Homo sapiens: one gene and its partners. The protein of the gene in region 1 interacts with the protein of each later gene in a pairwise test. Each region holds a gene or a part of one and is shown on either strand. Other genes may lie near its edges. The genes, in order: VAMP1, SGMS2, SCN3B and ARL13B.

Evidence for each region.
Region 2: the proteins of VAMP1 (region 1) and SGMS2 interact in binary tests that used the Homo sapiens proteins (3 or more experiments, as listed by UniProt).
Region 3: the proteins of VAMP1 (region 1) and SCN3B interact in binary tests that used the Homo sapiens proteins (3 or more experiments, as listed by UniProt).
Region 4: the proteins of VAMP1 (region 1) and ARL13B interact in binary tests that used the Homo sapiens proteins (3 or more experiments, as listed by UniProt).

The regions. Positions count from the first base shown.
Region 1 is NC_000012.12:6,461,709-6,468,910, forward strand, and holds the end of VAMP1 (vesicle-associated membrane protein 1), read right to left. Parts: intron 5,397-7,202; exon of another isoform or gene 5,343-5,396; intron 4,644-5,342; coding exon 4,517-4,643; intron 4,293-4,516; coding exon 4,134-4,292; intron 3,234-4,133; coding exon 3,182-3,233; coding exon of another isoform or gene 3,168-3,181; exon of another isoform or gene 2,779-3,167; coding exon 2,762-2,778; 3' UTR 1,262-2,761; coding exon of another isoform or gene 1,251-1,261; 3' UTR 1,135-1,250; coding exon of another isoform or gene 1,124-1,134; 3' UTR 529-1,123; downstream 1-528. Other genes in the region: TAPBPL (tapasin-related protein isoform 1 precursor), read left to right, coding at 326-441. UniProt on the Homo sapiens protein: Involved in the targeting and/or fusion of transport vesicles to their target membrane.
Region 2 is NC_000004.12:107,890,367-107,898,627, reverse strand, and holds part of SGMS2 (phosphatidylcholine:ceramide cholinephosphotransferase 2), read right to left. Parts: intron 5,562-8,261; exon of another isoform or gene 4,970-5,561; intron 3,319-4,969; 5' UTR 3,075-3,318; coding exon 2,620-3,074; intron 1-2,619. UniProt on the Homo sapiens protein: Sphingomyelin synthase that primarily contributes to sphingomyelin synthesis and homeostasis at the plasma membrane.
Region 3 is NC_000011.10:123,650,878-123,659,242, forward strand, and holds the start of SCN3B (sodium channel regulatory subunit beta-3 precursor), read right to left. Parts: upstream 3,748-8,365; 5' UTR 3,349-3,747; exon of another isoform or gene 2,950-3,348; 5' UTR 2,925-2,949; coding exon 2,870-2,924; exon of another isoform or gene 2,808-2,869; intron 1-2,807. UniProt on the Homo sapiens protein: Regulatory subunit of multiple voltage-gated sodium (Nav) channels directly mediating the depolarization of excitable membranes.
Region 4 is NC_000003.12:94,031,305-94,039,565, reverse strand, and holds part of ARL13B (ADP-ribosylation factor-like protein 13B), read right to left. Parts: intron 4,236-8,261; coding exon 4,130-4,235; exon of another isoform or gene 4,125-4,129; intron 3,015-4,124; coding exon 2,812-3,014; intron 1-2,811. UniProt on the Homo sapiens protein: Cilium-specific protein required to control the microtubule-based, ciliary axoneme structure. May act by maintaining the association between IFT subcomplexes A and B. Binds GTP but is not able to hydrolyze fit; the GTPase activity remains unclear.

The DNA of each region.
Region 1 (7,202 bases):
ACTGCTGGGAGGTTCAGGATACCTGCAAATGCCTCACTCCCTCAGCTGCAAGGAGAGACTTCTCCTTTTTATTCGTTTCTAAAATGTGCCTAATCAATACGGTGGAACTCAGCATACCAAAACTGTACGTGAGGATGATGGGGAAAAGGGGGTAAGGGGGTGTTCACTGACAGCCTTATCTGGGCACATCCCCTGGGACAGGACAAGCAGGCCAAGGACCTAGGAAGGAGCACAGGAGGCAGATGGAAGAGGCCTGAGGGAACCTGTGCTTGTTTGCCAGTGTGAGATGCCCACGCAACTTCCTGTCTTCACTTCCTCTTACCAGCACCTACAGGACTTGGGCTGCTTCAGGCTGAACGCTGGGAGACCACTTCCTGTGCTGACACACAGAGCTCCCATCTCCATGAAGACCGCACAGCGCGTGTAAGCCAGCCCAGCTGACCTAAAGCGACATGAGACTACTAGAAAGAAACGACACCCTTCCCCAAGCCCCCACAGCTACTCCAACCCAAACAACAACCAAGCCAGTTTAATGGTAGGAATTTGTATTTTTTGCCTTTGTTCAGAATACATGACATTGGTAAATATGCCACATGCCTTTGGTGGAAGTACAACTGTTGTTATTACTCTATACAAGTATGAGATCAGGGTTAGGAAAAAAAGACAAAGAGGTGATGACAGACACACAGTGGAAACCCCACATCGTCTCATGGCAAACCGAAGAACGGGATGTGGGAAGCTCAGCTTCATTTGACTGCAAAGTCCCAGGGTTTTGTTGCACATTTGCTCATGCACATGGGTGGTGGGAGGAAAGGGGGATAGCAGAGACACACAGAAGAGGGTACAGGGTGGGTGAGAAAGAAAGTAGAAGGGCTAATACCCCCAAAGAACAAGGCCAACTACACCTGGTGAGCCTCAGAGGGACAGAAACCCAGGAATGATTCCTGTGATAGGGCTGGGAGAGCCAAGAGGACGGATTCGCTCCAGGCTTGGGACACATCGAGGACAGTGGTGGTTCTTCTCCAGCGGTGACCCCCTGCATTAGGCAAGGAGGAGCCCAGAGGAGAGTGGAGACCTTCGAGGGGGGCCGTTGGGAGGGTACTGACTGCTTTCTTCCAGCTCTTCAGTCCCGCCCTTGGGCAGGACGAAGGGAATGTGGGAAACAAGGGCGAAAGGAAAGGAAGGATGGTTTTGAGCAATGAAATGCTGCTGCATGGAAAGTGGGCATCCAGACCCTGCCCAGCATGGCCTCAGCCTCTTCCTGTTCGTGGACCGAGGGAAGAAGGAATAAAGGGCCATGGGCATTCTCCGCTCTGTTCCCAGCCTGCCCTCCTCCCCTTGCACCTGGGCTTATCCCACATTAATAGCCCATCCTGAAGCTCAGCAATTGCCCCGAAGATAGGCTGAGCAGATCCCATCCTCAGGTTCCACTGTCTATACACACAAACCATGCAAAGAGGAGGAAGAGAAAGGAGGCAAAGTAGAATTCAGACAGGAAAGGGTGGTTCAAAGGGGAATATACTACAGGAAGAACAGAGAGGCGGCTCTCAAGGAGAGGGCCCCATGACAGCACAGCAATACACAAGCACACCTGACACAGGCTGGCACGCCTCCCCCCAAGGTGGGGCTGGTGGGTCTACATGACTTCTCTGCATCCTGAGGATCGGCCGGGCCCCAGGAAGAACCACTTGCCTCATCCCTGTCTTTGGCAAGTGCACGGGTGGTGTGGAGGAAAGGATTCCATGGGTGTCCAAAGATCTCACACTGCTAACACCCTCACGCTCCTTCATCAACAGGAAGAGAGGAACAGGACCCTCTTTAACGAGGGCAAGGAGTGGCTTCCTCTGAGCTTGTTACTTTCAAATTAAGCACTTGACTCACTGTTTCTCTATAACTAACAGGCAATCTCTCTCTTTATGCCAACAATTAACTGGGAGCTAGGTTAAATTATTTGGCTAGATAAAACTACCAGCTAGATGGATTTATTTGGTGCCCTCATACAGAATGCTGTAGAAAATGTAAAGAAGAGAAAGCTCCTTCCAGCTAGAAGCACATGGGACTGCTTCTAGGATGGAAACAAGTCCTGCTATTTTCACAATCCCTAAGTGTTCTCCAGGCCTCTGGAGAACAAAGTAAAGTTGTAAGATCCCCAAAGACACGGAAAATCCTGGACGAACAGATTAGAAATAACTACAAAAAACAAGTTTTTACTTTCGAAAAGGGTACTGCACTGAAACCAAGTTGGACTTTGGTCCACCCCCAGGACCCTCTTCAGGCCTGGTCCAGGAAGGAAAGCTCCACATGACCAGGCAGTACTGAGTGAGCTGCCATCTTCCCAGCCCCTCCCTAGCTCCTACCAGTGGCCAGGTTTTCTAGAAGTCACCATGGGCACCGATACTCTTCTCCTCCCAAGTCTGGGCAGCTTCATGGGTACTTCGCCTCAGCCACTCCCCTCCCTGCCCCTTCCCTTGGCCTCCAACTCTTTGGGGCTTTGGGGGAACTTGAGAGTACAGAAAAAGCAGGCAGGGAGGAGGCGCCAGCTGTTGCTCTTCGGGTAATGACTTAGATTGTGCCACGAGCAGCATTTCTAGTGTTGAGGGACAGAGTGCAAATGAACGCAACGAAAAAGGAGGAATGGGTGATGGAGAAGCCTGGGCTGGAATGGAGGACGGTGGGTGGGGAAGTGTGTTGAGAGAGCAAACAGAGGGCAGAGGACATGAATGTGGATGGCAATGGACAACAGGGAAGGGGTGGTACATTCTCAAGTAAAAAAGTAGACTGGACACAGGAATCAGGAAGTCCCAGACGGAAAAGAGAAAGAGACAGGAGAAAACAAGAGGGTGAATTACACCAAGTTACCAGACATTCAGGTCTCTCCATTGTTAAGTGCCCCATCCCCATGGTCTCCCTCCAACCCAAGCCAGTGACACACAGCATAGCCCCACTTCCTCAGAACAGGAGGCGCCATCTCCCTGCAATGCGTTGCAGGGGGAAGGCTTGTCCATCAAAGAAATCCCTTGTCTCTGCCCTTCCCCCGTCCCGAACCAGGTGACGATCCCATAGCAGCGGTCTCCATACCTCAGTCAGAGCAGCCCCACTCCCCAGGCAGGCAGGCAGGCAGGGAGAAGACTCCAGGACCTTCCCACCTCTTCACCCCACCAGCAACTTCAGCGATACTTACTTACAATAACTACCACGATGATGGCACAGATGGCTCCCAGCATGATCATCATCTGAGGAAACATGGACAAAAAATGAGCCCTTGGATTTCAGGAATGAGGAAAAGAGCCACATCTCTAGTGGGAAACAGAATTCCTTCCATCCTTGGGACAATGGAAAAAACCACCCATCACCCAGGAGACCTGCAGGCCTCTTAGAGAGGCCCTACCCTTCTGCTTCCCAGGGGATCATAACCACAGTATGTCTGTAGCTTTTCAGATTCATCACAGGACCTGCATTGAGCTCCTTTTTGCTTAGTTCCTGGTGTCTTGGGGCTTTAGAAGGCATTCCAATAGAGATACAGACTCTGGATATTTAACCAATTAGTTCAATTTTCACTGTGAAGTGTTCAGCTCATTCTCAAAAGTTGCAGTTATTTAAAAATATATATTTCAATCTGAGAAAGCTGATTTAAAAGAAAAAGAAAAAAGTATATATATATATAAATGTATATATATGTATATATATATATAAATGTATATATATGTATATATATATATAAATGTATATATATGTATATATACATATGTGTATATATAGTGTGTGTGTGTGTGTGTGTGTGTGTATGTATATATGCCTGAGCCATTGTGCTGATGTTGGGTGTGTCTGAGGATGAGACAGGTGAAATTTTTTGCAGGCAACTCCTTTGGGGTAAAGCTCCTTAACTAACCATTCCAAACTCCTCAGGGTATCACTTTTTCCCTGATAGCGGTTCTAAATACTCTAGCCTACCCTGGTGGCCAATTCTGGGTAATGCAATCTCAAGAGGAGGCTTTCCAGATTTCCTCCCAAGCGTTATGCTGGTCAGAGAGATCCTGCACCATTAGAGGGAAGAAATGTAGAAGCTGAGGGTTTTCTTGCCTTCTACCAGTGGAAGCCCAGGAAAAGATGGAGGAGGGGACAAGAAAATTCACCTTGCAGTTTTTCCACCAATACTTCCTCTTTAGCTTGGCAGCACTGCTCTCAAATTGTGATGCTCCTGCCTGCAAGGCATCAGCTCGGTCATCCAGCTCTGACAGCTTCTGGTCCCTCTCCAGGACCTTGTCCACGTTCACACGTATGATGTCCACCACCTGAGGAGGGCACAGAAACAAAGCAGCTAAGCTTCCTGCCAGAGACAGAGGAAAGGACAACAACCAGAGAATCACAAGTCTGGCCCTGTGCAACTCTAAAGGGTGCTTTGCCTCTCAGGGCCTTTGACTATTCTCCTACGAAAAAAGGAGAAAAGATAAGAAGTTCCCTTTTGTTTCCAAACTCCTAGATTTGGAAACTTTCAGAGAAACAGCTATCTACCTACCTCCTCCACTTGTGCCTGGGTTTGCTGTAGTCGTCTGTTACTGGTCATGTTAGGAGGAGGGCCAGGGGGACCCCCACCTGGGGCAGTCCCTTCTGTCCCTTCAGCAGGTGGCTGAGCTGGAGCAGACCTGTGGAAAGACATGTGCAGAGTACACAAAGTGACCAAGACAAGAAAGGAGCTGGGCGTGGTAGCACACACCTGTAGTCCCAGCTACTCAAGAGGCTGAAGTGGGAGGAGCGCTTGAGCCCAGGAGTTCGAGGCCAGCCTGGGCATCATAGCGAGACCCCATCTCTAAAAAAACAGACAAAAAGAAAGGACTCACATGCATCCTCACCCCAAACCACTTAAACAATTATGATTAGGCTATACAAAACTAGAATGGATTCTTGCTCCTTGGCAATCTGAAGTAGGGAGACAAACCATAGAGGCAAGAAGTAAAAGATGAAAGACTCTGCAACAACATTTGGATGGGGTTCAGGGACATCCAGGATGGCATCAAGACATCTCATCTGGGGCTATCCTTTGACTCAACTCAAACAAGTCCTCTGCCATGATGGCTACAGGGACATATGGCCTAGCCTTGTCCTAAATGGCATTTCCCCGCTGATATGGTTTGGCTGTGTCCCCACCCAAATCTCAACTTCAATTGTATCACCCAGAATTCCCACATGTTGTGGGAGGGACTCAGGGGAGGTAACTGAATCATGGGGCCCATCTTTCCGGTGCTATTCTGGTGATAGTGACGAAGTCTCATGAGATCTGATGGGTTTATCAGTGGTTTCTGCTTTTGCTTCTTCCACATTTTCTCTTGCTGCTGCCATGTAAGAAGTGCCTTTCACCTGCCGCCATGATTCTGAGGCCTTCCCAGCCATGTGGAACTGTAAGTCCAATTAAACCTCTTTTTCTTCCCAGTCTTGGGTATGTCTTTATCAGCAGCATGAAAACAGACTAATACAGTAAATTGGTACCAGTAGAGTGGGGTGTTGCTGAAAAGATACCCAAAAATGTGGAAGCGACTTTGGAACTGGGTTAACAGGGAGAGGATGGAACAGTTTGGAGGGCTCAGAAGAAGACAGGAAAATGCGGGAAAGTTTGGAACCTCCTAGAGACTTGTTGAATGGCTTTGACAAAAATGCTGTTAGTGATATGAACAATAAGGTCCAGGCTGAGGTGGTCTCAGATGGAGATGAGGAACTTGTTGGGAACTGAAGCAAAGGTGACTCTTGTTATGTTTTGGCAAAAAGACTGGCAGCATTTTGCCCCTGCCCTAGAAATTTGTGGAACTTTGAACTTGAGAGAGATAATTTAGGGTATCTGGCAGAAGAAAAGACGCAGTACTAAAGAAAAAAACCATTTTTTTGAGAAGAAATTCAAGGCAGCTGCAGAAATTTGCATAAGTAGCAAGGAACCTAGTGTTAGCCCCTAAGACCATGGGGAAAATGTCTCCAGGCCATGTCAGAAGCCTTCATAGCAGCCCCTCCCATCACAGGCCTGGAGGCCCAGGAGGAAAAAGTTATTTTGTGGGCCAGGCCCAGGGTCCCCATGCTGTGTGCAGCCTAGGGACTTAGTGCCCTGTGTCCCAGCCGCTCCCACTGTGGCTGAGAGGGGCCAATGCAGGGCTCGGGCCGTGGCTTCAGAGGGTGGAAGCCCCAAGCCTTGGCAGCTTCCACATGGTGTTGAGCCTGCAGATGCACAGAAGGCAAGAACTGAGGTTCGGGAACCTCCGTCTAGACTTCAGAAGATGTATGGAAACGCCTGGATGTCCAGGCAAAAGTTTGCTGCAAGGGCAGGGCCCTCATGGAGAACCTCTGCTAGTGTAGTACAGAAGGGACATGTGGGGTTGGAGCCCCCACACAGAGTCCCCACTGGAACACTGCCTAGTGGAGCTATGAGAAAAAGGTCACCATTCTCCAGACCCCAGAATGGTAGATCCACTGGTAGCTTGCACCGTGCGCCTGGAAAAGCCACAGACACTCAATGCCAGTCCGTGAAGGGAGCCAGGAGGGAGGCTGTACACTGTAATGTCTGTCAGCTCACCCCTTTTTATATTCAAGTTATTGGTTATGGTTATTGGTTTATATGCCCAGTTATTGGTTATGCTTCACACAAGATGAGGAAATCAGGGCTGCCATAAGGGCAGCTTGGAAAATCACCAAAGGCAAAGTCTATGTAGGTGGAGTGAGTCAGGACTGTTTGTTTGCTTTGTTTTTGGCAGAGAAAATGGGGGTTTCACTTAGATAGAATCTGGGGCCCAAAGCAATTACATTAGTTATGGAAACTGTTCCAAGAGCATAGACAGGAAGCAAAAATGCTAGAAATTGTCCTCAATGTGCATGCATTATAGACATTCTGTCCCTTCCTTTTCTGGATTTGACAGTCTCAGATGACTCCCTTGGTTACTTACATCCCAAAGAGAGATCTTGGTTTACTGTACTATACACACAGAGAATGTTCTCTCATTCTGTACCACTCAAAGTTAGTGTGTGGTCTTCAAGACAAACTCCTCTCCATGTCCCAAAACATGGAGGCTAAACTCACCTCCTAAAGAATTCCCAGAAGTATAACCTAAGTCATGAGATGTTCTCGGCCAAGGAAGCACCCACAGGCAGGGGGGAGATCTCTCAAATTTGATGGAGAATAGAAATTACAGTAAGAACTCCTCAAACAGAAGCAGAATCTCACCAAA
Region 2 (8,261 bases), on another chromosome or scaffold:
TAGGTCTGTCAGCTCTGGGCTCTGGGGATTAAGAGATGAGTGGGACTCCACATAAAGCCCCTAGACTTGCTAGGTGTAACTTCATTACTGCATAAAACATATTACTCTAGGTCTCTCATTTTCAGAGGTCTCAAGCTTTCAAGACTGGTAGTGATCAAAGACTTCTGAAAAAACAGGCAGTTTCAGGTAATGTGACATATTTTAAGTTTTCCCTAAGATTGTGGTTCTGACATGAATCAAGGTCTAATTCAGATAACATTTGGAACTTCTAATTTCAAGAATTATGTATAAATATATATTTCAGCTGTCTGTTTCCAACAGCTATTTTAAGAATATTCCAAGGTTTCTGGGGTCAAAAAAAAAATAGAAGGGAACACCACCTAGACTAGTAGATGAGAGTATTTATTTATCCCCAAGGAATTTCTTTAAAGGCTTGCTATTCTAGTTCTGCCTTTCCTGGTACTAAAAAGGAGCAGGTAATAAACAGTGCTGAGTTTCTTCCCTTGGTTAAGGGAAAACCAATTTAGCCTTTGATCCAACCTCAGGTTCCAACAGAGTGCTGTTTTGAATTGTGCTCCATGCTGTTAGACAAGGGGAAGTAATAAGCAGAAATTATTATGAGTCAATTACATTCATTCCAGCATTCTGAGTTCAGCTGTACTCAGAACAGAAAACCAACTTAGAAGGTGAAAGATGTACTCTACAGCCTTATTTAGAAAAAGAACTAGTGCTAATGACTTTTTCCCATAGCTTTGAAAGGTGCTTTTAAAAGAGAGAGCAAGCAACATTCCTCATTCAGCTGGGATGTTCAAAACAGGTTATAAAAATTATTCTACTAGTTACTAAAATGTAAGATCCAATTCTACTTCAAATGTAAAAAGGCAAACTTGTGTGAATTGCGACTGAAACAGTGGATATCATTAAAATTTATGGTCTGGCTATGTGACCGTGTGTTTGGACATGTTGAAAATCTAAGGTGGTAGGTAGAGGCAGTTAATAATAACTATCTAATGAAAATTCAAAAAGGATCTAGATGAAAATACAGCTAAATTGAGGGAAAGACTGTACTTCAGGGTGGAGTCCACATACTTACCAGATTCTGGACAATTTCTCTTTTCACACATATATCAATAAAACCTTGCTCTAAATAAAGGAGAAAGCAAATTATCTGCCGCCTTAGCAGGCTCTTACATTGTGTTAATTTCCAGACACTAAAGAGAAAAACACTGAAGTTCATAAATACATTTTTTGCTTTTAGCATAAAGCATCCTTTAACAATTTCAGGAGCAGGTTACTTTTTTAAGTAAAAGACAACTCATAGCTAAGTCTATTACTTAAGCATATTAAGGAAACACATGAAGAGTTATATTAAGGAAAATGCTTAGGAATGACTGCAGTTTGTGGAATAAGGTTTTAAGACTGCAAAGTTGCATTTGGGGAACTCTTTAACAAAGATAGACTGAATTCCTCTAATCACAAAACAGTAACAGTGTTAGGGTCTGAGTGGATATACCACATTGAGAGTTCTATAATTGATCAAGTAATGAAAAGTGTTACCAACTAAAAAACAATACAGCCAAAATTCTCTAAGAATGATCTTGTGGCATTAATACTGAAATCCTATTTGACTTGGAATGTTCAGATTGTATCCAAGTTAGCATACATTACATTTTTAAACTCTGTATTATGGTCAGTGTTTTGATCAAAATCATATTTTAGTGATTTAATCACTACCATCCCAGTGGAAAACAAATGTCTAAATGATGAATGAGAGGAAAGGAGGAATTAAGGAGCCTTCGTTTTTATGGACTAGGAGTCAGAATTCACATAGAGAAGCAGAAATAACCACTTCAGGGCTATGTCCAATTCTTAAGTGTCTTCAAAGCAAAAGTACCTGACTTATTTCTTCTTGATTTCCTACTATTCCAAAAATGAGGAGGCTGAACCCAGTGAACCATGAGCTCCTTTGTGGTGTCCAAGGAAAATCAGAGGGCAAGTTTACTTTAGAAATCTAAAAATCAAAACCGCATGGATCTGGTTCTAAACTCAGTCTCTTAAACACTTGTAACTAGATAGCAAGCAAACAAAAAACCGAAACCACATCCACACACCCAGCCCCACAGAAATGTAAAATTTGAGAATTGAATCTAGGCAAACCTTAAAGCAGGCTATTGACTCTAGACCAATACAGACATCACATTATGAGTAATGGAGAAAAAAGTTTCTCAACCTATTCCTTTTCCCACTTGTCAAGAGCCTGAAATAACAAACATGATGGGAGTGAATGTTATTCCTTTCCAAGCCTCTTGATTTATCATACAAATACCATAGCACCAAGTTGCTGGAAGTCAGGAACTGCACCTTAAATTCATCAACTCTGAGTCATCCACCACAGTACTGCTGTACACTGCCACTTTCATACACAGTTGCTCATCAAACACTTACTGAATAGTGACTGAATTTATTCAATGTGGTAGAGCTTTCTACTGTTTTCTTTCATCAAATGTTTGGGTAAGACTGAATTTATTGGGGGAAAAAAAGGAAAAATAATCTCAATAACCCATCTATTCACTCAAAAACAAACCCATGACAAATCCTCAAAACATTAGATTTACTTACTTGTATCTCAGAAACAGCCACTGGGTGATCCATAATCCAACTAATATAATCCCATTTATTTCTGATACAGAAAATGCCCATTTCACCCTATCAATGTAATCAAAAAACTTGTCTGGGAGTGGAGGGCTAAGCTCCTTGGGAGGGACCCTCTCATGTACAACTGTGATCATGACGGTTGTCAAGACGAGGTTGAAAACTGCATATATGAAGGCAATGCCCGTTTTCCACCACTCTAGTGGAAATTTGTTCCTTGATTCAGTGGGCATAGCAATTTGGATATAGTCCGGGTACTTTTTGGTGCCTTTTCGCAGCCCACTGGATAAGCTCTTGGGTTTACCATTGCCATTTTTGTTTTCTTCTTCAACAGGTTCAGCGGGTCTTGCATAAGTGTTCGTAGGATCACTGGGTTGATTTTCCAAATGTTCTTCAAGTTTTGCTGTCTCTATGATATCCATTGTCCCCTAGTCTTCAGATCAAAAAGGAGATGGTCAAGTTCTTGTTCTTTGTGGAAATTTAGCTTTTTTCAATCCTTCTATTTCCAAGATCAACATGGACTCTTACAATGGACTTTGTTTCCTAATACAAAATGTAGAAGGTAGCCATCCGATTACTGTTTCTTCCATGCAGCTATATGCTGTACCTTCACCACTTTCAAGAAAGGAAGCCAATTCTTCCCTCAAAAAGATGTTACTATCCCACCTAAAAGCAAAACAAAATTATGTTCAGAAACTATGCTTGTCCAACTGTCAACCATCCAAAACAGAAACATTCTTAAACTAAGGAAACAAATACCAAAGCCATTTGCTTTATAAATGTAACGTCAGAACCTAGTTAAAGCTGCTGAGATCAAGTTTATTTACAAAATACTGAACAGTTTTATCTTGGAATTCTTGTCTCTTTTTGAGCTAGTATTGGTAGAAATAGGAACATTTTAACAATCAGTTCCCTTTAAATTTCCTTAAAGAAAAATCAGGACCTAACATTGCAAACACTTCATCAGACACTATCACTTGTTGCTAACCATGAAGTCATAATAAGCTAGAAATTACCCAGAGATCACATCAATCCTTCCTAAGACTGTATTTTCTATGAGCCATAAAGAAAGAATAAAAAACTGGTAAGAGGCTTATATGCATTGAATAATTGTTACTCTTCATTTGTCAAAATAGTCAATTTTCTATTTTCTAATTAAAAAACAGAAGTCTTTTTAAGTGACCGCTTTTAAGAACAGATTCAAGAACAACACATTCAAGATTTTTAAAATGGCACAGCCTCAGTTTATCCTTTTATATTCAGAGACGCACACCATATACAAGAAAAGCTGGCAGCCTTCAAAATAACTCTGAAAAGATACACCAAGCCTTAGCTATGTCTCTCACGCAGGTAACAAGTAGAATTTATTTGAAGGATAAAAATACCTCACTACAATTGGCATGATAAATTAGTAACTAACAATATTTTGATTCAGCTACCACAATTTCTACCAAACAACAGAAACGGGCCTCCAGAGGACCAGCTCAGGGGACTCACCCACCACGACACTGATGAGGATAACTACCTTTGGCTTCAGCTCCACAGGCTCCAGAGAGCACACACTTCTTTCGGACACGGGGCACCACTGCCACCTCTTTTATACTTGCTAGCACACAGCCCCAGCTGTTCTCAATTTAGGAGAGCAGTCTTTTAGTCCTGCTACAGAAACCAGCCACCTGATGAGGTTTTCAAACCTCGTAATTAGTCCTCTCCCTGGATACACTGCTCAACTTAAGCACAATCCACTGCATTTTAAAGGACCTCCCCCCTCCCCTGCCTCCCCGTTTCAGGGTAACTTCAGGGAAAACTGAGGAGGACAAACTCAAAGTGATGACAGCTAAGCCTTTATTTAATGAAAGAAAAAAAACACAGCGAAAATGGCAGTCAATATGTACAGGCAATGTCTGTTTACAATTATGGGTGGCAAATAGATAAACCACAAGTGTTTACTGTGCACCTAAATGCCCCAGTGCTGAAGGCTATGTAGGGCAAATTAAAAGGAGTGAAAAACACCTGACCTGAACATTCAGCCAAAGAGCTTGCAGTCTAACCAAAGAGACAGGACTAAAATGATGAAAGACTACTGGAGAAGACTGAATGGCATATTGTGAAAGGAAGGAGAGGGATGAGCTGATCACTAGGTAAAGTGAGAGGTTTAGCTGTACTGTTTCCCTGCTCCAGGGACAAGATGTGTCCACACACAGGCTCTGTTTCTGAGAAAGCAAAAGCATGTGGAAAGCTGGCCTGGTAGAGAAATGGGGGATAAGGGAGCATGAGACTAGCTAAAAGGTACTACTGAGAATTATAAACATCTCACCTTTCCCTTGTCCTTCTGCAGAGCCCCCAGCTATCAATACATTACAGCAGGATGAGAAAGACCCAGGCCTTTGACATCCCAGGCTTTGACAGGCCCAGGCTTGACAGTGTCTTGGCACAATGTTGTGGGAAGAATAAGCACAATGAAGAGGTGCCTCAGGAAGGTATTTTCAACAACAAACCTTCAACACCATGAACTGCTACTTCTAACGGAGGTCCGAAGCACTAACACAGCCATTTCCTGTCTCTCTTTAGCAGCCTTGCCTAATCCACTTACAGCATCTTGCCAAATCATCATCCAAATTCCCTTCAACTTTACTCTTCCATATGTGCTCCTAGTCTTATGTTCATGTGGGAAAGAAGCTTGTGATTTTGAAACTCCATTTCACAGTGGATGTACAGATGGTCTTTATAAGGTAGCTACTCGGTTCTAGAACACAGAATGTGGAACAGAAGAAAATCCAATTAGTAACCTTTTTTCTTTTTTTTTTCCAAGAGGACACACTCAGCCACCCACCTCATGGGACTGCTATGAGAATGACTGAAATAATTAATTGTGAAGAGCTTTGTGCCCCTGGGAGTAAGAACACTATGTGAGTACAATGCCCATTTATCGTTATTAGTGTTAAAATTAATATTTTCCTTGGGATTTCATTAAGATTAAATATACATAGCACATTCATCATGTGTGAACAAATCTTGGGACGAAATGTTTGTCATCAAGATAATGATCACAACATATTCATTCCTATTTTGAAAGGAAAATATCTCGGGGTCCCAAAATCACTCAGCTAAAGGAAAAAGTCAAGCTGGGAACTGCTTAGGGCAAACCTGCCTCCCATTCTATTCAAAGTCACACATCTGCTCATGGAGATAAATGCATATCTGATTGCCTTCTTTGGAGAGGCTAATCAGAAACCCAAAAGAATGCAACCATTTATCTCTTATCTACCTATGACCTGGAAGGCCTCTCCCCACTTTGAGTTGTCCCACCTTTCCGGACCGAACCAATGTTCATCTTACATATGTTGATTGATGTCTCATATCCCCCTAAAATGTATGAAACCAAACTGTGCTCTGACCACCTTGGGCACATGTCTTCAAGACCTCCCGAGGCTGTGTCATGGGTGTGCAACCTCAACCTTGGCAAAATAAACTTTCTAAATTAACTGAGACCTGTCTCAGATTTTCAGGGTTCACATTTTGGTAACCACAGAGGGATTCTGAGTGGAGGTGCCCCTGACCTTTAACAAATCTCCTATCAGTGCTTGGTTCAACCTTGGGCTATCTTTATGGCTTAAACCAATAGGACAATTTGCTGAGGCCTGGAAGCACCCATTCCAGAGAATCCCTGATCTCCCCAATTCTGGTTGAGATCTAAAGTTTATTTTGCTGTACAACCTTTTTTTTTTTTTTTTTTTTTTTGGAGTTTTAGTTGCTTCCAACACAAGGCAGGCAAGTTTTTCCTGCTTCCATGATGATGGAAGGTAGGTAACTCCTTTACGGAGTTTCCCTTCCAACAGGGAAGATGAGGTTTTTTTTTTTTTTTCCTGCTCCTAGTGACACAGGAGATAGAAGTTATTTAGGCAGATAGTGAGGGTAAGAGTTCTTGGCAAGGCTTCCCTTCTAACAGAAAGCAGCCCGAGAAACTTCTTTTGTCTAATGAAGAGCAGCCTGAAAAATTGAGCTGCAGACATAGATAAGCAAGCTGGAAGCTTGCACAGGTTACTGCCAGCAGCTGTGCCAATACAAAATGGCTACCTGGGGGCCAGGTATGTTCAACGTGTAGGCTCCATCTTCCTTTTTGTCACCATGTGTAAAGAAACAGGCAACATGGTGTGGGCCAGGAAGATAATCCATTTGCATAATAAAACATTAGGGTGGGGGTGGCCAGCTTTTTGCACCCTTATGCAAATGGCACACCTGGTCCAACCAATCTTTCATGCCCTATGTAAATCAAACACCACCTCCTCAAGCTCATCTATAAAACCTGCATTTCACTGAGGAAGCAGAAACCCATTTGGGACCCCTCTCTCTGCAGGAGAAAGTTCTTCTTTTCCTTTTGCCTATTAATCCTCTGCTTTTAACCTCACTCCTTGTGTGTCCATGTCCTTGATTTCCTCTGCATGAGACAATGAACCTCAGGTATCACCCCAGACAACAAGGCTGCTTCACTAGGATAGAAAGCAGTCTTCAGCCTGAGACCCAACAACCCCTAGATAACTAAATTGGGGTTTGTCTTGGCTAAAGTTAAAATCAACAACCAGCTGGTCTTAATGTCTTTACCATTAGAGTGCTCAGTAATCATATAAGTTGTGCAATCATTTTTTTTTTGCTTAACTGTTTTTTTTTATTGTTTCTCTTTTTCTTGTTGTTTCAGTCTTTTTCCCATTGGGTTTGACCAACTTCTTCCGACTTGATCAAATCCGAAGGAAAGTTCCAAATTATGGGGAACAAGGCCACTGAAGTGGCTAAATTCTCATAGACACACACAAAAAAGGTAGTATGGTAAGGTGGTATAATGGGGGGGAGAAAAACAGCCAGAAAAAGGAAAAAAAAAGAAAAAAAAGGAAAGAATTTTAATTTTGACTACTTAAGGGGCTTTATTTACATAACAAAGCCACCTTTTTGCTAGCCAGGTCAAACTGAAAGCAAAGGCAGTCACCTCACACTGCATTTCAATAGCTAGGGTTCTGCCTTTTTTTTCCCACCATGACAGCCTGAGTTTTGTTTCCTAAATCAAGCCCTTTCTGGTTTGATACTTGGTACTTCTGAAATAGCGGCAATTTGTCCTAGTTCGTGAAATATGGAAATGAGATTTAAAGAGTTGTTTTTTTAAAGGAACTTAATGGTTAAAGTCAGCTTAATTGAAAACTACCATCCAAGATGTGTGTCTGTACGTTTACATGTGTTTGTATTTAAAAGGCCTTCATGTTTTTATTCCTTTTTTCTCCCCCAGGACCTTGTCTTTTTTTTTTTTTTTTTGAGGTGGAGTATTGCTCTGTTGTCCAGGCTGGAGTGCAGTCGTGTGATCTTGGCTCACTGCAACCTCCACCTCCTGGATTCAAGGGATTCTCCTGCCCCAGTCTCCCAAGTAGTTGGGATTACACGCACGTACCACCACACCCAGCTAATTTTTGTATGTTTAGTACAGATGACGTTTCACCATGTTGGCCAGGCTGGTCTTGAACTCCTGACCTCAGTTGATCCACCTGCCTTGGCCTCCCAAAGTGCTGGGATTATAGATGTGAACCACCATGCCTAGCGCCCGTTTTTTAAATTTTTTCTTCTCA
Region 3 (8,365 bases), on another chromosome or scaffold:
AATTACATTGTAAACTGTGATGCACAGGCAAATATAGGGTTTTATTTATTTATTTATTTTAAAGGCTGGGCATGGTGACTCATGCCTATAATCCTAGCATTATGGGAGGCTGAAGCAGGAGGATTACTTGAGCCCAGGAGTTAGAGACCAGCCTGGGCAATATGGCGAGACATCGTCTGTATTAATTTTTTTAATACAATTATTATTATTTTATTGTATTAATTATTTATTGTATTAATTATTTATTGTATTGTATTATTTTTTAAATCTCTTTAAAAAATAAAAATTATTACATGCTTTAACAAAGGAAATAAGGAAACTTTTTTTCATGCATGCAGAAAGTAAATGGAAAGACTCTTTCCCTTCATATTGTACATCATATTAAAAAATCAACTTTGGAAGGGGGAACACATCTAACCCAGCATTATTGTTCAATATTGGAATTGCATGCAAATCAAATGAAATTGTATCTGTGAAGGGCGGCTGTTTTTCTTTCTTTTTTTTTTGATGGAGTCTCGCCCTGTTGCCCACGCTGGAGTGCAGTGGCACAATCTTGGCTCACTGCAACCTCCACCTCCCAGGTTCAAGCAATCCTCCTGCCTCAGTCCCCCTAGTAGCTGGGATTATAGGCACGCACCACTATGCCCGACTAATTTTTGTATTTTTAGCAGAGATGGGGTTTCGCCGTGTTGGCCAGGCTGGTCTTGAACTCCTGACCTCAGGTGATCCACCCGCCTCGGCCTCCCAAATTGTTGGGATTACAGGCGTGAGCCACTGCGCCTGGCGAAGGGAAGCTGTTTTTCTTACAGTTAACAACCAAGTGTCCTGAACCACTTCTCTTTCCCTTCCACAGCTTTTCAGTTTGGTGAGACAACACTCAGTTTGCAAAGAAACTGAGAATGGGCAAAGATGGGCATACTGTGTACACTTCTTCCAAAGTTTTTTGGGGTCGGGGAGGGGATGGGCACTCTGTCAATTCTAGCAATATTCTTCAAAGATTTCTCTACCATTCATCTGTGGAGCTGAAAAGGATGTTAGATATCACCCGTGCCAACTTCCAAACATTACACAGAAGGAACCAGATAGCACTTTAAGGTTGTTATATAGTAAGCTAGTGGCAAAGCTGAGACTCCAATGCAGGTTGCACAAGTTCTAGTTAAAAGATTCTTGGATGATAGCATGTTCTCTCCCTCCACTGGAATTCAGGCAGGGATCTCAAAATCTTAGATTAGAGTTCAGGAAGAAAGTCTCTGCAGAGTCTCACTCCAACCCTTATCCACAACTTCAGCTTTACCGACGCTCTTTTTATCTGGCCAGGCTAACATCTTCTAAGCCTCGTGTCCTCAGCCTTAGCCTCCCCTGAGAAAATTTCAGCCTTAATCTTCAAGGCAGGTGAGATCATTGGCAACATATTATAGCTGCTCCATCTCCAGGTCTGGTCTACTCTACTGGGGATGGCTGGTGATGAGTCCGCCTTTGGGGCTGACATTACCTCCCTCCTCAACCTTCCTAGTCCGTCTCATCAGGCATTTTGACAGGAAGCTTGGCTCTGCCTCTGGTCACATGCAAAATCCAGATAATGCTGGCAGCTAGAGTTAGTCCTGGAGGCTTGAAAAAGTAATACTAAAGCAAAGAGGCAGCTCCCATCAGCATGTCTGCCACCGTATAGGCAGGATGAGTTTCATGCCAACCATGGGAACATAAGCTCACATGCCTCGTTTCAGGGAGGCAGGTGGGTACAATTGTGTCCAATTACCCTGTGTATTGATTTTTGCACGGAGAAAGGTAGCTAAGATCATGTAAAGCAATCTGTCTGCTGAAGAGAACCTATATTTTATCTGAGGATCTAATCATAGACACCAAGGCAGACATGCCCAGAACTACCACCCCCACCCCTGCCATACACATACTACTACACTCACCCATGCATTCAGATGTCTATGCCAACATGCTCACACACATGCTAGTGCACACATCCAGACACTGAAATATATTTACATACAGTAAAACATTGTCTCAATCACACAATCAGACATTATCACATAGATCAATCCCCTTTACACACATTCAGGCACTCCAAGACCGTCTCTGACACTCTCTTCAGCCTTTACTGTTCCAAGTGTAAGATTCCCTTATTTGGAGGGGGAAGGTCACCTCAGTTTCTCACAGCTGACAAGCAAGAATCTATTCACCTTTGAAGGCAAAAACCCAGCTCTCCTCCCCTAACACCAAAGCATCTTAGTTCCACAGGTTCATGCAACAAACAAACAAACCAAAAAAAAAAGAAGAAGAAGAAAAAGAAAGATGCATTTCACAGTTGCCTATTTATTTAATATATAGCAGTAAATGGCTGAAGGCTGTTTTCTTCCCATTCCTTGTTAAAATTAAGAAGATGATGAGCAACTAAAGTATTTTCACTCTCAAAATTCATGCATCCAGCTTTTATGGTTTTTTTTTTTTTTTAATATACAGAAACGAATTTGAAGACCCAGTAAGCTTTCCAGGAGTATAGACTCCTTGATGAGAAATAAAATGTAACCACACAGGAGGTTTTTATTCGTGAACGTGACTGCATTTCCTTTCAGCAAAGGGAAAGGGAAAAAATACTTTGGAATGATCAGGAAACTGGAGGAAGGGCGGAAGAACCACCAAAGGAGGTTGGAGAATAGCGGGGAAGGGCGGTGGGGAGGCGCCTTTCCCATCTCAAAATCCCAGCTCTCATGGAACCCCTGCCATCTCCATGTCTGGCAGATACGCACAGAGGCAAGCCAGCCAGAGCTCTTTTCTGTCACCAACGACATCAATGTGTTATTATTGTTAGCATTGTTACTGTTACCTGCATCCGGCATGGCGAGGTGCTGGTACTTACCCCAGTAGATAAGCACGAGAGAAGCCAGGGGAAACAATCTATTGAAGGCAGGCATCTTCTGGGGCTGGCGGCTTCCAAGGCTACACAGAGAGATTCCCTCGGTCAAGGACTGCGCCCTCTCAGATTCTTTCGAGGAAACCCTTTGGGACGAACTGCCCCCAGGGGGCGACTTTCTGACCGAAGGAAGGGCCGAGCACCGGTGCCTGGGGAGGCCCTGGGAGCTTTTGGAGCCGGGTGGGGGCTTTGGGCCCTAAGCGACCCCACTGGACCTCCCCAGTTCGAGGGAGCCGATCAGCCGCTCCGCGCCCGCTCTCGCCGGCGCTCAGCACCACGGACAGTCGCCTCCCCGCCCACCCCGGAACTCCAGCTTCCACTCGCGCCCCTGCCTCGCTCGTTTGCGCCCAGGGTAAGCTCAGCTCGGAAGGGAGTCGCACTGCTGGCCTAGCAGCCAGGCTGTGGAAGGGTCCAGGTTGATTCACCTCTCGCCTCCCCAGGATCGGTTGCGTTCCGACTGGAATCCTCCCAGCCCCGCGGCTCCTGCTTCGTCCGCCCTAACTGCTTCTCCAGCTGGGCGTGACCCCACTCCCGAAGCCGCCGGGGCCGCCCGTCTGGGCTACAGAATGCGTTCCACGTCGGTCCCGTCCACGCCCGCCCTCGGCTCCCTGGGGAGGTGCAGCGGGGCCGGGAAGGAAGCGGCAGCTCCCGTTCGGCCGGCGATGTCAGAGGTTGGGGGGTGGGTGTAGAGGCGGAGCCCCTTCCCGGGAGCTCGCCCCCGGATGGTGCGGGGCCCCGACCCTGGGTGGCAGGTGATCAGCAACCCTTCTCTAGGCCCCCAGGCCGTGTGTGCTGTCAGCCCTGACATGCGCAGGCGGCTCTCCGCCACCACCACCGCCCCGGACCCTCCCCCTAGTGCACACTCCCCACCCCCTGATGGGCGTGCCCCTCCCAGGCCCAGCGCCGCGCCGAGCGGGGGCGGAGCCGGGAGCGGCGCAGACACTTCCAGCCGGGATATCTTTGCTCGCGCGCTCGCTGGTCTCTCCAGGTCTCCCTCTCGCGCCTCCGCACCTCCCCCGAGCTCGGGCGCACCGCCGCCCTCGGCTCACGCCCTCCAGGCAAACCCACTCCGCTCCCGCACGGACTTGCCGGGTGTAGCTCCGGGAAGAGAAGGGCCAGAGCTCTTTCAGGCAATGATGTCATCTGCAAGGCGCGCCGTACGCGGTTCCTGGCTTCGCCTCCCAGACCCCATGCCTTCCAGTTCTCGCTGTCTATCCTTTGTCTAGCCTTGATTAATTGGCCCCGGACACAGCAAACTCAGCAAGATAATCCCTGTTTAGGGCAAATGGGGTAGGGATGAGGCGCACCTGTTCCTGTCTTCACCTCATCACTCAGTGAGGTGATCCAAATGTCAGCGCAAGGGGAGGGGGGCCCAAGAGGACTCCTCTTCCCTTCCCCAGGTTCTTTGCAGTTCTCCCTTTTCCTTTAATTACTCCTTTTTAATAAAGCAGATAGATTGTGTTTGGCGTCTTCCAACTATTAGCCACTCCCTAGTCCTAGCAGCTGTTTGAGTGCCCCCGCCCCATCTCTGGAAGGGAAACCTGAAACTTTACATTCAACTATAAACTCAAATTGACATAACAGATTAGGAACGCCTGGAACTGAAGTAAAAGAGTAATCCAAGAGCCCTTCTTCAGCTTCCTTTTTCTCCTCTTCTGCTCTTTCCAAAAGGGGAAGCTTAACGCTGATATTCCAAAATGGAATAACAGAGCAACAGCTGACGGTGAGTGGACCAGAAGCAGGAAATGCTCCCTCCTGACATCTCACAGAGTAACAGAATGTCCCCAGTCGGATCTTCCTGGGCAGGGAGCCACCAGGCCATAAACTCTGTGCTGTTTGGAGGACTAGGCCTTGAAGCATGTATACTGTGTTAAATTTGGATGGGAAGTTAAAGTTGACCTAATTCAACCGCTTTTCCAATTTGTGACTTCCCCCAAGAACATTTCGGACGAATGGACTTGATTTTATTTATTTATTTATTTATTTATTTATTTATTTATTTATTGAGACGGGGTTTTGCTCTTCTTGCCCAGGCTGGAGTGCAATGGCGCGATCTTGGCTCACCGCAACCTCCGTCCCCCGGGTTCAAGTGATTCTCCTGTCTCAGCCTCCTGAGTAGCTGGGATTACAGGCATACGCTGCTACACCCGGCTAATTTTGTATTTTTAGTAGAGATGGGGTTTCTCCATGTTGGTCAGGATGGTCTCAAACTCACAACCTCAGGAGATCCACCCGCCTCGGCCTCCCAAAGTGCTGGGATTACAGGCATGAGCCACCGCGCCTGGCCTTGATCTTTTTAGTGATGAGAACTTTCTACATCACAAGTTCACCTCTTCTGATGCTTAAGGAAGTTCTTTATGTTCAGTTGAATTCCGTACACTCCTCCTCCCCCTCCAAACTCCATTAAGTGGCCCTAATGCTGTTTTCTCTTTAAAAGAGCTATGCTTCCTCACATCCGCCCTAAGACATTTTTGTTTGTGGCTACTCTTCCTTAGTTTCTTCCAATGTATTTTCTAGTAGTTTCCAATCCTGTACCACCCTGGCTGCTTTTTCAGAAGGACTTTCAGTTTCTCAGCATGATTCTCCAAGTGACGTCCAGAACAGGAACTGATGGTCCCTGTGTGGTCTGACCAGCATAAATCCAGTGGAATTATGGCTACATTTGCTTTGAAGGATATAACTAGTTAAATACATTTACAGCCACATCTTAGTCATAATCAGCTTATGTTCAATTAAAATCCCTGAGTATTCTTCACTTGACTTGTTGCAGAGTCATTGTGTCTTGTACAGGCAATTTTGGAAATTTTATTATGAAACTTTGCACTTATTGCTGTTAAAATTTATTAGTTTCAACCAGTTATCACACTGTGTTAATACTTTTATTGAATTCAGATTCAATCACCCAATATATCTCTCTTCTTTACCCTTGTTTCATCTCTAGGCTTGACAATCACATGATCCACACATGGATATTTAAAAAAAGAACCAATAGAAAAAAAGAAGAGATAGTCCTATGGCCTGCTTCTAAAGACCTCATTCTACCTTGACAATGAGCTACTAATTAACATTTTTGTTTGTTTGTTTGTTTTTTGAGACGGAGTTTCACTCTTGTTGCCCACGCTGGAGTGCAGTAGTGTGACCTCGGCTCGCTGAAACCTCCACCTCCCAGGTTCAAGCAATCATTCCGCCTCAGCCTCCCAAGTAGCTGGGATTACAGGTGCCCACTACCACACCCAGCTAATTTTTGAATTTTTAGTAGAGAGGGGGTTTCACCGTGTTGGCCAGGCTGATCTCAAACTCCTGACCTCAGGTGATCTGCCCGCCTTGGCCTCCCAAAGCACTGGGATTACAGGCATGAGCCACTGCACCTGGCCTAATTAAAATTCTTTAGAACAGTTGCTCAATCATAAAACCCAAACATAGCTCCCTATTTTTTATATGTACAGCATGAGACATTCTGAAAATTTAGAATAAAAGGAATCTGTGAGAGGAATTAGACATCTAGTCATCCACAGGAAAGAAATAGGATCAATGGCTTACACTAACACAAAAACAGATTTTCAGCAATACATTTCAAACCTTTCCAAAGTAGGACAAATTACCTTTCGTTACATCCAAGCAGTTGTTATCCAAACAACTGCTGGGATGTTTAGGAAGGAAAACCTGTAAAGGTTAGAAATTTGGAATAGATTATGTTAAAGTTCCTATCGTCTTTGAGGTTCTATGACTTTATTGAAAGCCTTACCAAGACTGAAATACACAGACAGACTGAAATATTTTCAGTCTGATAATTTTATCAACTACCACAGCAGGAATTGGCTCAGCTTTACAAAATTTTTCTTATGTCTATTCATGTGAATTGCTAATATTCATAATGTTGTTTTCTAATTGTTTATCAACCCCATTGTAAATAGTCACTGTCAGGATTTCACCTCTATTTTTCATATACCACTTCTTCCCTCTCCTGTATTGAAAATAGGAGCATTTAGTCTTTTCATTCTCCTGCTGTTTCCCTTGATTTTTGGCTGTCACTCTCAGTCACTTTTGCAAGTACCTTAAGTTCCCTGAAGTACTCTTGGCCTTGTTCTGAGAGTTTTAAAATCATTTAAATTAAGCTCTCCCTTCCTCTTTTCTGCCATTTTGGCTTCAATCCTTTCTCATTGTTGTTGACTTGGCCTCCCAATTTAATAATCATTCTCCCTTCACAGTTAATGGGTGAAACCATATGCTCTATTCTCCAAAGAGTAGACAGAACAGTCTTTGTATTCTAAAAGATGGGAACTTCTCTTGCTTAAAGCCCTTCCATGGCATCTCACTACACTGAAATAAAATCTAGACTTGTCACCATGGCCTAATGTTGGCCTTGTGCCCTGGCTATCTCTCCACACTCATTTCTACCACTCTCTGTCTTGTCCACCATGTTCCAATTACACTTAATTTTAAAGAAATGTACCTCATAGTTATCAAACTCTTCCCCACTATTAATATTTCCCATCATTATTATTATAGCCTTAGCATTTGATGTCCCCTCTTCCTGGAACATTCTTCATTCTATGGCTGGTTTCTTGTCATTTTGGTCTTGCCTCAAATGACTTCACCCTAGAGTGACATTCCCTGGTCACTCTAAGCTTGTTTCCTGCTACCTTCCTCACCTGAAGCTACTCTCTATCTCATCACCCTGTTTCTTGTTCTTCATATCTTCTCTCACTATCCAAAATTATCTTATTTTTAATATATGTACTTGCTTATTTTCTGTTCCTCCCATCAGGCTGGTTCTCCTTGGTGATAGATAGCAGCCTTGTTTGTTCTGTCTACTGCTGCCGTCCTGCACCTAGATCAGTGCCAAGCAGATATTAGGTCCTCTTCACAGAGGACACAAGTGAATGAATACACAAGGGAGTGAGAATAGTGTGGAAACAGTGAAGAGCTGAGGCCAGAATCAATAGGGGAACAGAAAACCAAGAGTCAGAGAAATAGGAAGAGACCCAGCAAGGTGCAATGCCATGGCAGGCCAGGGAAAAGAGGGTCTTTAGACTTAAGGACACTTCTCCTTTGAGGGGACTTTAGCTAATTATGCTCAGAGATTGAGGAAGAGGATGGAGTACAGAGCCTAGATATTCAGGGATCTTGAGGTGGAGGGAATGACATGACTCTGCTGAAGAAAGAATTGAATGGGAGCTATTCAGGGAGATGTTAGTTTTCTTGTGGAATGAAACACATTCACTGAGACTACTGGGGAGGAATTAGAGACAGGAGCAGTGGAAGTGACATTGTAAGTAAAGATAAGGTGTGGGACCTTAAGAGACACACAATGATCTTGGTAAAGTAGGAAGCCACATTTTCCATTGAGTGTAGGTGGTAGGGAGGTACAGGAGAACCCAGGACAAGGGAGACAGTCTGAATAACTGAGGGCACCTTCTTAAAGCATAGAAAAATGTCAAG
Region 4 (8,261 bases), on another chromosome or scaffold:
ATCAATGCTGTCCTCTTTACTGGTGTTAACAAATAGTAATTATTCTTTTTTTTTTTTTTTTTTTTTGAGTCGGAGTCTTGCATTCTCGCCCAGGCTGGAGTGCATTGGCACCATCTCGGCTCACTGCAAGCTCCACCTCCCGGGTTCACGCCATTCTCCTGCCTCAGCCTCCTGAGTAGCTGGGACTACAGGCGCCCGCCACCAGGCCTGGCTAATTTTTTGTATTTTTAGTAGAGACGGGGTTTCACCCTATTAGCCAGGATGGTCTCGATCTCCTGACCCTGTGATCTGCCTGCCTCTGCCTCCCAAAGTGCTGGGATTACAGGTGTGAGCCACCGCGCCCAGCCAAATAGTAATTATTCTTATTAATTCTTTTCTTAAGGGCTAAGTCTTCTCTTACAAAACTAGGAAAACATTCCTTCAACTCAACCTATGTTTTTATTTCTGCATAAACATGTTTCTTGTTTAGTATAAAAGAATAAAAGACTAGAATATCTACAGATTGATTCTATAGAAGTATATGACAGAGTAGTAATATAAAATATTTTATCAAGTTGTGTATCATATTTGAACTAGATAATAACTTCCATAATAGTGTTCAGTGGCTATAAAAATAAGTTACCATATGTATCATTCAGATTAAATAAGTATTTCCATATTAGTTACCACTGAACATTTACTATCTCTGTGATTTATAGTAATGTTGTTCCATACATGATGAGTAATGTTATTAAGATGAGCAGCCGGCCGGGTGCGGTGGCTCACGCCTGTAATCCCAGCATTTTGGGAGGCCGAGGCGGGTGGATCACGAGGTCAGGAGTTTGAGACCAGCCTAATCAACATGGTGAAACCCTGTCTCTACTGAAAATACAAAATTAGCCGGGTGTGGTGGTGCATGCCTGTTATCCCCATTACTCGGGAGGCTGAGGCAGGAGAATCGCTTGAACCTGGGAGACGGAGGTTGCAGTGCGCCGAGACTGCGCCATTGCACTCCAGCCTGGGCAACAAGAGCAAAATTCCACCTCAAAAAAAAAAAAAAAAAAAAAAAAAGAGCAGCCAGAGACCAAAAAAAAAAAAAAGAAAGAAACACAAGTATTGTGGATCTTTAACTGGACTGTAAGTATGGTATAGCAATGTAAATGTTCATTACCATAATATTTACTAGCTGTGTTCTAGATGGAAATACATATCCTTTTATTATGAACCTAGGAAGCCAAGATTTGGAGATTTGCAATTTACTACTTCTGTGACTTTGGACCTGGATCTTTTGAGCCTTAGCTTTCCCACAAATGTGAATAAAAATAACCACTTCATAGAGCTGTATCAAGGGTCAGATAAAGTAATATATGTGAGAACACTCTGTGAATTAACTTTCTCATAGGATAGTCATTGTTATTAATTTTATTTATTAGTAAGCAACTTCAGGAATACAGTATTAATATATTATTTTTACTTGGCATGTTTTACTGTTTTTCAAAAACACTAGAAATGACTATCTGAACCAATTAGATTGGATTTAGTGAAGTAAAAAGCTTGTTTTTAATCACCCGTCTCCGAATGTCAATTTGCTTTTAATTATGGAGTATTGGCTCAACAGAAGAGGTCTCCTCAAGAGGAGAGGTCTCAGACCACAACTGGCATGGATAAAGAGAAAGAAAGAAAGGGTAAGGAGTATTGGAAAAGCCTGCCATAACATGATCTAGAATATCATTATGGAAAAGGCAAAAACATTTAAAAAGTTACTAACATTAGATTTCTTTTATCCAACTCAATTTTTTTGTTGCTTCTGTTTTTATTTTCTTAGTGGAGGAAAAGGAGTTTTCACATAATTATGGCCATATATTTAATTTTTATAAATATTATATATAAAAGGTATACTTAACATGCATGATTGGTTGTACTGAGCTTTATATGATAAAAATACATACTAAGAAAAAAACAAATATTCTCACAGGAACTAAAACCTTGTATCAACAGCTGCCAAAATCATTCACTCTAATCTGTCTTTTATATAAAGAGATCCCTAGATGAAAGGCACGCTCATATTATTGAGCACTTGGGGATAGAGAGTCATTTCTATAAATATTTCTTTAAGTCCTATTGATGAATTAAATGAAAAATACCAGTTATCAGAGGATTTCCTTCACGGTATAAGGAAGTACCTCATAATGGGTCACCAAGGGTAGTGAGTTCTTGCTCACTGGGCTACAACTATGTTAAACTACATAAAAGGCCAGATGGAAGGCAACTATGGATCAGATTTTGCTTGAGTTGAATGATTCTCTAGCAGCTCACCTTCTATCCTTGCTGAAACTAAAAAGGTTCCTCAGTCTCAACGTTATTGACATATTAAGCCTGATAATTCTTTGTTGTGGGAGACTGTCCTGTGTGTCATAGGATGTTTAGCTGCATCCCTGGCCTCTACCCAATAGATTCCAAGTAGTACTCCACTCCTTCCCCTAGTGGTGAAAACTAAAAATGTCTCCAGACACTGCCAAATGTTAAAAACTACCCTGTGCATTGAGAACCACTGCACTAAGGTACCCACAAGCAATCAGAGACAAAAATTTAAAACTCTGGAAGACAATGGCTACGTAAGGAGTAAATTTAACTATTATACAACCACCAGAAAAATTAGGAATCTACCACCCAAACTTGTACAGAAAAAGATCCACAGAAATACAAAATTTACCTAGTGTCTTCCTTCACACAGAAAGAAGAAACTGAACAGATAAAACTAACAACTGATTCATAAAATTGTTATGTTTTTGATCCTTCAAATGCACTGTGGTACAAAATTAATCTACTTACCTTTCTTCTCGTAATTTTCGCACTCGTTCAGCTCTTTCTTGTTTCTCTTGTTCCTCAAGAGCACGCTGCTCTGTTGTCTCTTTTTGGATGCGTTCATTTAAGGCATCAAAGTCTCTTGCAATAACATGTAGCAGCCAATAAAGGCCTTTTTTAATGGACTTGTCAATTTTCTTTCCATACCCCGAGATTGCTGAACATGGTTCCTAAAACAGAAATTTATTTGACTAAAAGATTAAAAGGTCTCCACACAAATCTATTCATAAACCATTAAGTATAATTAATGGCAAATCAAAATTAAGCCATTTAAGTTAATAATATGAAGCATCTGCTTATTTAACTTCCAAAACATAGCACTGCAATGATTAACATCAGTATATAGAACTTAAAATATTTTACAGATAACATCTGTACACTATGTAAGATATTATAAAGAAGAGGGTGACAGTGCCACTTATAATATTAGAAGAAAAAATTTAACTACCATAAAAAGACATCTCTATTGATTAAAAATGCCAGGAAGTTTTAATTCCTTATACTACAATATACAGCAGTAAACATCCATAAGATTGACAGCCTAATGTTTTTTGAAACCAAAATAAATTATTAAATCCACTGTTCATCTTCCTTAAGACTGTATGACATCTCTCCTGATATGATTTATCTTTTCTTTTTTTGTTTTTTAGAGGCAGTGTCTCATTCTGTTGGCCAGGCTGGAGTGCAGTGGCTGAATTAGAACTCACTGCAGCCTCAGCCTCCCAGGGTCCAGTGGTCTTCCCACCTCAGCCCCCTCAAGCAGCTGGGACTACAGGAACACACTACCACACCCAGCTAGTTTTTGTATTTTTTGTAGAGCTAGGGTCTCACTATGTTGCCCAGGTTGGTCTCAAACTCCTGGGCTCAAGCAATCTGCCCCCTTCAACCTCCCAAAGTGCTGGGATTACAGGCATGAGCTACCATGCCCAGCAAAATAATTTTTCAAAATTCATTATGAATCTCTCATATGTTTAAATTTTGTATTTACACTTTTCTTTCCCATTTTACAAATTTCATGCCATGATGTGTTGGCTATGTTAAAACGCAAATGTGAAGCTCCTTGAAATCATGGAAAGATAGTTCATGGAAATAACAATGAAATAGACAACAAATATTATGGTATTAAGTTATATCAACAGAAAAATGGGAATGTGATTTCATAGGTTACAAAAAATTCTTTGAAAACATTGCCTTTTAATTGCTATCACTTTTATAAAAACCAAGTTATACTGAACCTATTTGAAAGGACAAAAAATTAAAATTAAAAAAAAAAAAAAAACCTTACTATCTGACACAGGCACTTGTGCTCATTGACCAATTTTTCCAGAGATAGACATTCAATGACATCAGCTTCTCCTAAAGCTCCTTCTTTATCTTGTTTATTTGCCAACCTGAAAGATAATTAAAGTACTTTTATACAGCATATATATAATTGGATGGAAACTTAAAGATATTTTGACCACATTCTTTTTTTTTTTTTTTTTTGAGACTGAGTCTTGCTCTGTTTCCCAGGCTGGAGTACAGTGGTGCAATCTCAGCTCACTGCAACCTCCGCCTCCCAGGTTCAAGTGATTCTCCTGCCTCAGCCTCCAGAGTAGCTGGGACTACAGTTGTGTGCCACCACGCGAGGCTAATTTTTTGTATTTTCAGTAGAGACTGGGTTTCGCCATGTTGGCCAGGCTGGTCTTGAACTCCTGACCTCAAGTGATCTGTCAGTCTCAGCCTCTCAAAGTGCTGGGATTACAGATATCATCCACCATGCCTGGCCTGACCACATTCTTTGATTCCCAAGTTTTAAATGTACTGATTACAGAACACACTAGTATCTTAAAATGTTGTAGCATCAATTTTGTCATTTTTCCCTTATTATTGCTAAAATAGTTTTTAAGTACTGGCCTATAAAAGGAAAATCAAATAAAGTGTCAAGAAAACATAAACAAGAGATCAATATGCCAACAAAACAGAAAAAGCTACAAAACAGAAAAATAAGAGGACTAATTTCCACAGGTCACATCCATAAATTATATTCTTATCTTCTTAAAATACAAACTGTAATGTTTTAAATGCCCAAATATTCATTCTGAACTTTTAATATTTGAGCTCATCTACAATTCTAATGTGTGAATGTGTCCACATAAATGTGCAATTTACTGAAGACCCAAGGCCACTTCTAATATACTTGGCAAAGCACTGGGAATTAAAAAAAAAAAAAAAATTGTACTCAATTAGAGACAAACTGGACACCAACAAAATGGAAAACCAATATATTCTACAGAAAAACAGGATTTACCACAATTTACCACTATTTAATTATATAACATAGATTTAAAAGTTTAATAAAATACTGCCTTGCTCAAAGTTTGACAGACTCTTTAGGTTAAAAAAAAAATTAAGTACATAGACTAAGAAATCTAACGAACCCTTCCCACCTATCTTTAAAAATTATCAAAACTGTGTCATTCTTGCTTATCTATATACCTTCTTTTTTTTTGTATTTCCCAAGTTACCATTAAAATCTACATACCTTCTATTTTGCTGCCTGAATCACATTACTTCACCCAGATATTAAAAAATCATTACCATGATACCACTATCACACCTAACAAAATTAACAGTAAGTCTTCAATATTACTCAATTTACTCAATATTCTCCAATATCATTTTACAAGTGTTATGTTTAAATTCAGGTCCAATATACGTTACTTATCACTTAACTCTTTTTGAATCTATATTATACCTGCCCTCCCCACTACCACCCCCATGACTCTTTTCCTCCCATGACATTTGTAATTTTTCTTTAGAATTCCCATGTTTGGGATTTGGCTAATATCTTCCTTATAAACTTATTTAACATACCTATCCTATATTTCCCGTATCTGGTGGTAAGAAGCTGGATGAGTTTCAGATGAAATCTTTTTGGCAAGCATACTTCGTAGGTGGTGCTTGTATTTAGGGAGGCATATAATATCACTTTTATATAATGTCCTATTTTGGTGGTATAAAATTAACTAATGGATTTACATTTAGCCTGATCCATCCAAAATAAAGTTCCTCATTAATCTTTCACTTAATGATTTTAGCAGCCATTGATGACCTTTACTTAATTCTATTATTTTACCAAAGTTTATGAAACAGTAACTTTATAGTTCCATATTCCTTCTGCATTTACTAGCAGGATTCTTGCTAAAAATAAGCTTTCACCAACTACTTGGTGCCTCTTAAAATTCACAAAGTCAAGATAAATGTTTGATCCTTTGCCTTTATTTCCTGATTTTCAAAATAATGAATTAATGGCGTAGCAACCTCCGAAGGTGATCAGGTTGATTTAAAAAAAAAAAATCCTATAAATTTAAGGATTATGAGTGCAGTTTTGTGATGTAAATGTATTGCATAGTGGTGATATATTGCATAGTGGTGAGGTCTGGGCTTTCAGTGTAACCATAAGCTTAATAATGTGCATTGTAGGTATTAATTTCTCATCTCTAACTCCCCTTCCACCCTCCCACCTGTCCAAGTCTCCAATGTCTATTAATCCACACTCCATGTCAATGTGTACACATTATTTAACTTCCACTTGTGAGAACACGCTAGATTTGACTGTTTCTGAATTATTTCACTTTAAAAAATGACCTCCAGCTCCATCCACGTTGCTGGAAAAAACATGCTTTTTTAAATAGTTGAATAGCATTCCATTTTATGTATGTATATACAAAACACACACACAAACATTTTCTTTCATCATCCATTGAAGGACATTTAGGTTGACTCCCTACCTTTGCTACTGTGAATAATGCTGTGATAAACATCTTGAGTTCAGATATCTTTTCTTGTATAATGATTTCTTTTCCTTTGGATAGGTACCCAGTAGTGAGGTTGCTAGACTGAATGGTAGTTCTTTTTTTAGGTCTTTAAGAAATCTCCATACTGGCCGGGCACGGTGGCTTACGCCTGTAATCCCAGCACTTTGGGAGGCCGAGGCGGGCGGATCACAAGGTCAGGAGATCGAGACCATCCTGGCTAACACGGTGAAACCCCATCTCTACTAAAAATACAAAAAACTAGCCGGGCGTGGTGGCAGGCGCCTGTAGTCCCAGCTACTCGGGAGGCTGAGGCAGGAGAAGGGCATGAACCCGGGAGGCAGAGCTTGCAGTGAGCCGAGATCGCGCCACTACACTTCAGCCTGGGCAACACAGCGAGACTCCGTCTCAAAAGAAAAAAAAAAAAGAAATCTCCATACTGTTTTCCATAGTGATTGTACTAATTTACATTCCAAGAGTGTATAAACATTCCTTTTGCTACACAATCTCGCAGACATCTGCTATGTTTTAACTTTTCAGTAACAGCTAAAAATTCTGACTGGTGTGAGATGGTATTTCATTGTGGTTTTAATCTGCATTTCTCTGATTAGGCATATTGAGCATTTTTTTCATATGCTTGTTGGCCATCTGTATGTCTTCTTTTGAAAAATGACTATTCATGTCTTTTGCACATTTTTAATGGGGTTGTTTTTTGTTGTTGATTTCCTTGTAAGTTTTGGTTATTAGTCTCCTATAGGATAAAGAGGTCGCAAATATTTTCCCTCATTCTGCAGGCTGTTTGCTCCATTGATTACTTCTTTTGCTGTGCAGAAGTTTTTACTTAATAATTAAGTCCCATTTGTCTATTTCTGGTTTTGTTGCTTTTGCTTTTGAGGTCTTAGTCATGAATTATTTGCCTAGACCAATGTCCAGAAGAGTTTCATCAGTTTTCTTCCAGTATTTTTCAGGTCTTACATTAAGTCTTTAATGCACCCTGAGTTAATTTTTGTATATGGTGAGAGACAGGGTTCCAGTTTCATTCTTCTGCATATGGCAATTGAATTTTCCTAGCATCGCTGTACCCATCATCTGGGTTCTCTATTCTTTTCCATTGATCTATTCATCTATTTCTATACCAGTACCATGCTACTTTGGTTACAATAACCTTGTAGTATAATTTAAGGTCAGATAATATGATGCCTCCAGCTTTGTTCTTTTTGCTTAGGACTGCTTTGGCTATTCAGGCTTTTTGGTACTTTTTCTTATTTTGAGAGGCATCATTATGAACTTATGGATTTAAAAATGTATTTGATGTGTTTCAATTTGTTGCAGTTATTGCTCTTTTTAAGGCTCAAAGGTACCCATTTTGAGGCAGCAGGAGTCCCCTTCAGGTTGGCTCTTGGACCCTTTTGGTACAACTCCAACAGTCTTTGATAGCTTCTTTATGTTCTACTATGAAACAAGGTTCCAGACTTGCAATCATCCATTTCCCCAAGAAGCCTTGATCTTTTCAGTGGAAAATGGCATTTTAAAGACTAAAACCTAGGAGTTATAGATAAACATTTGCTATTGACTTACTACTGCTTCTAGGCCCTTTCAGTGCACAAAGCTAGGAAATAG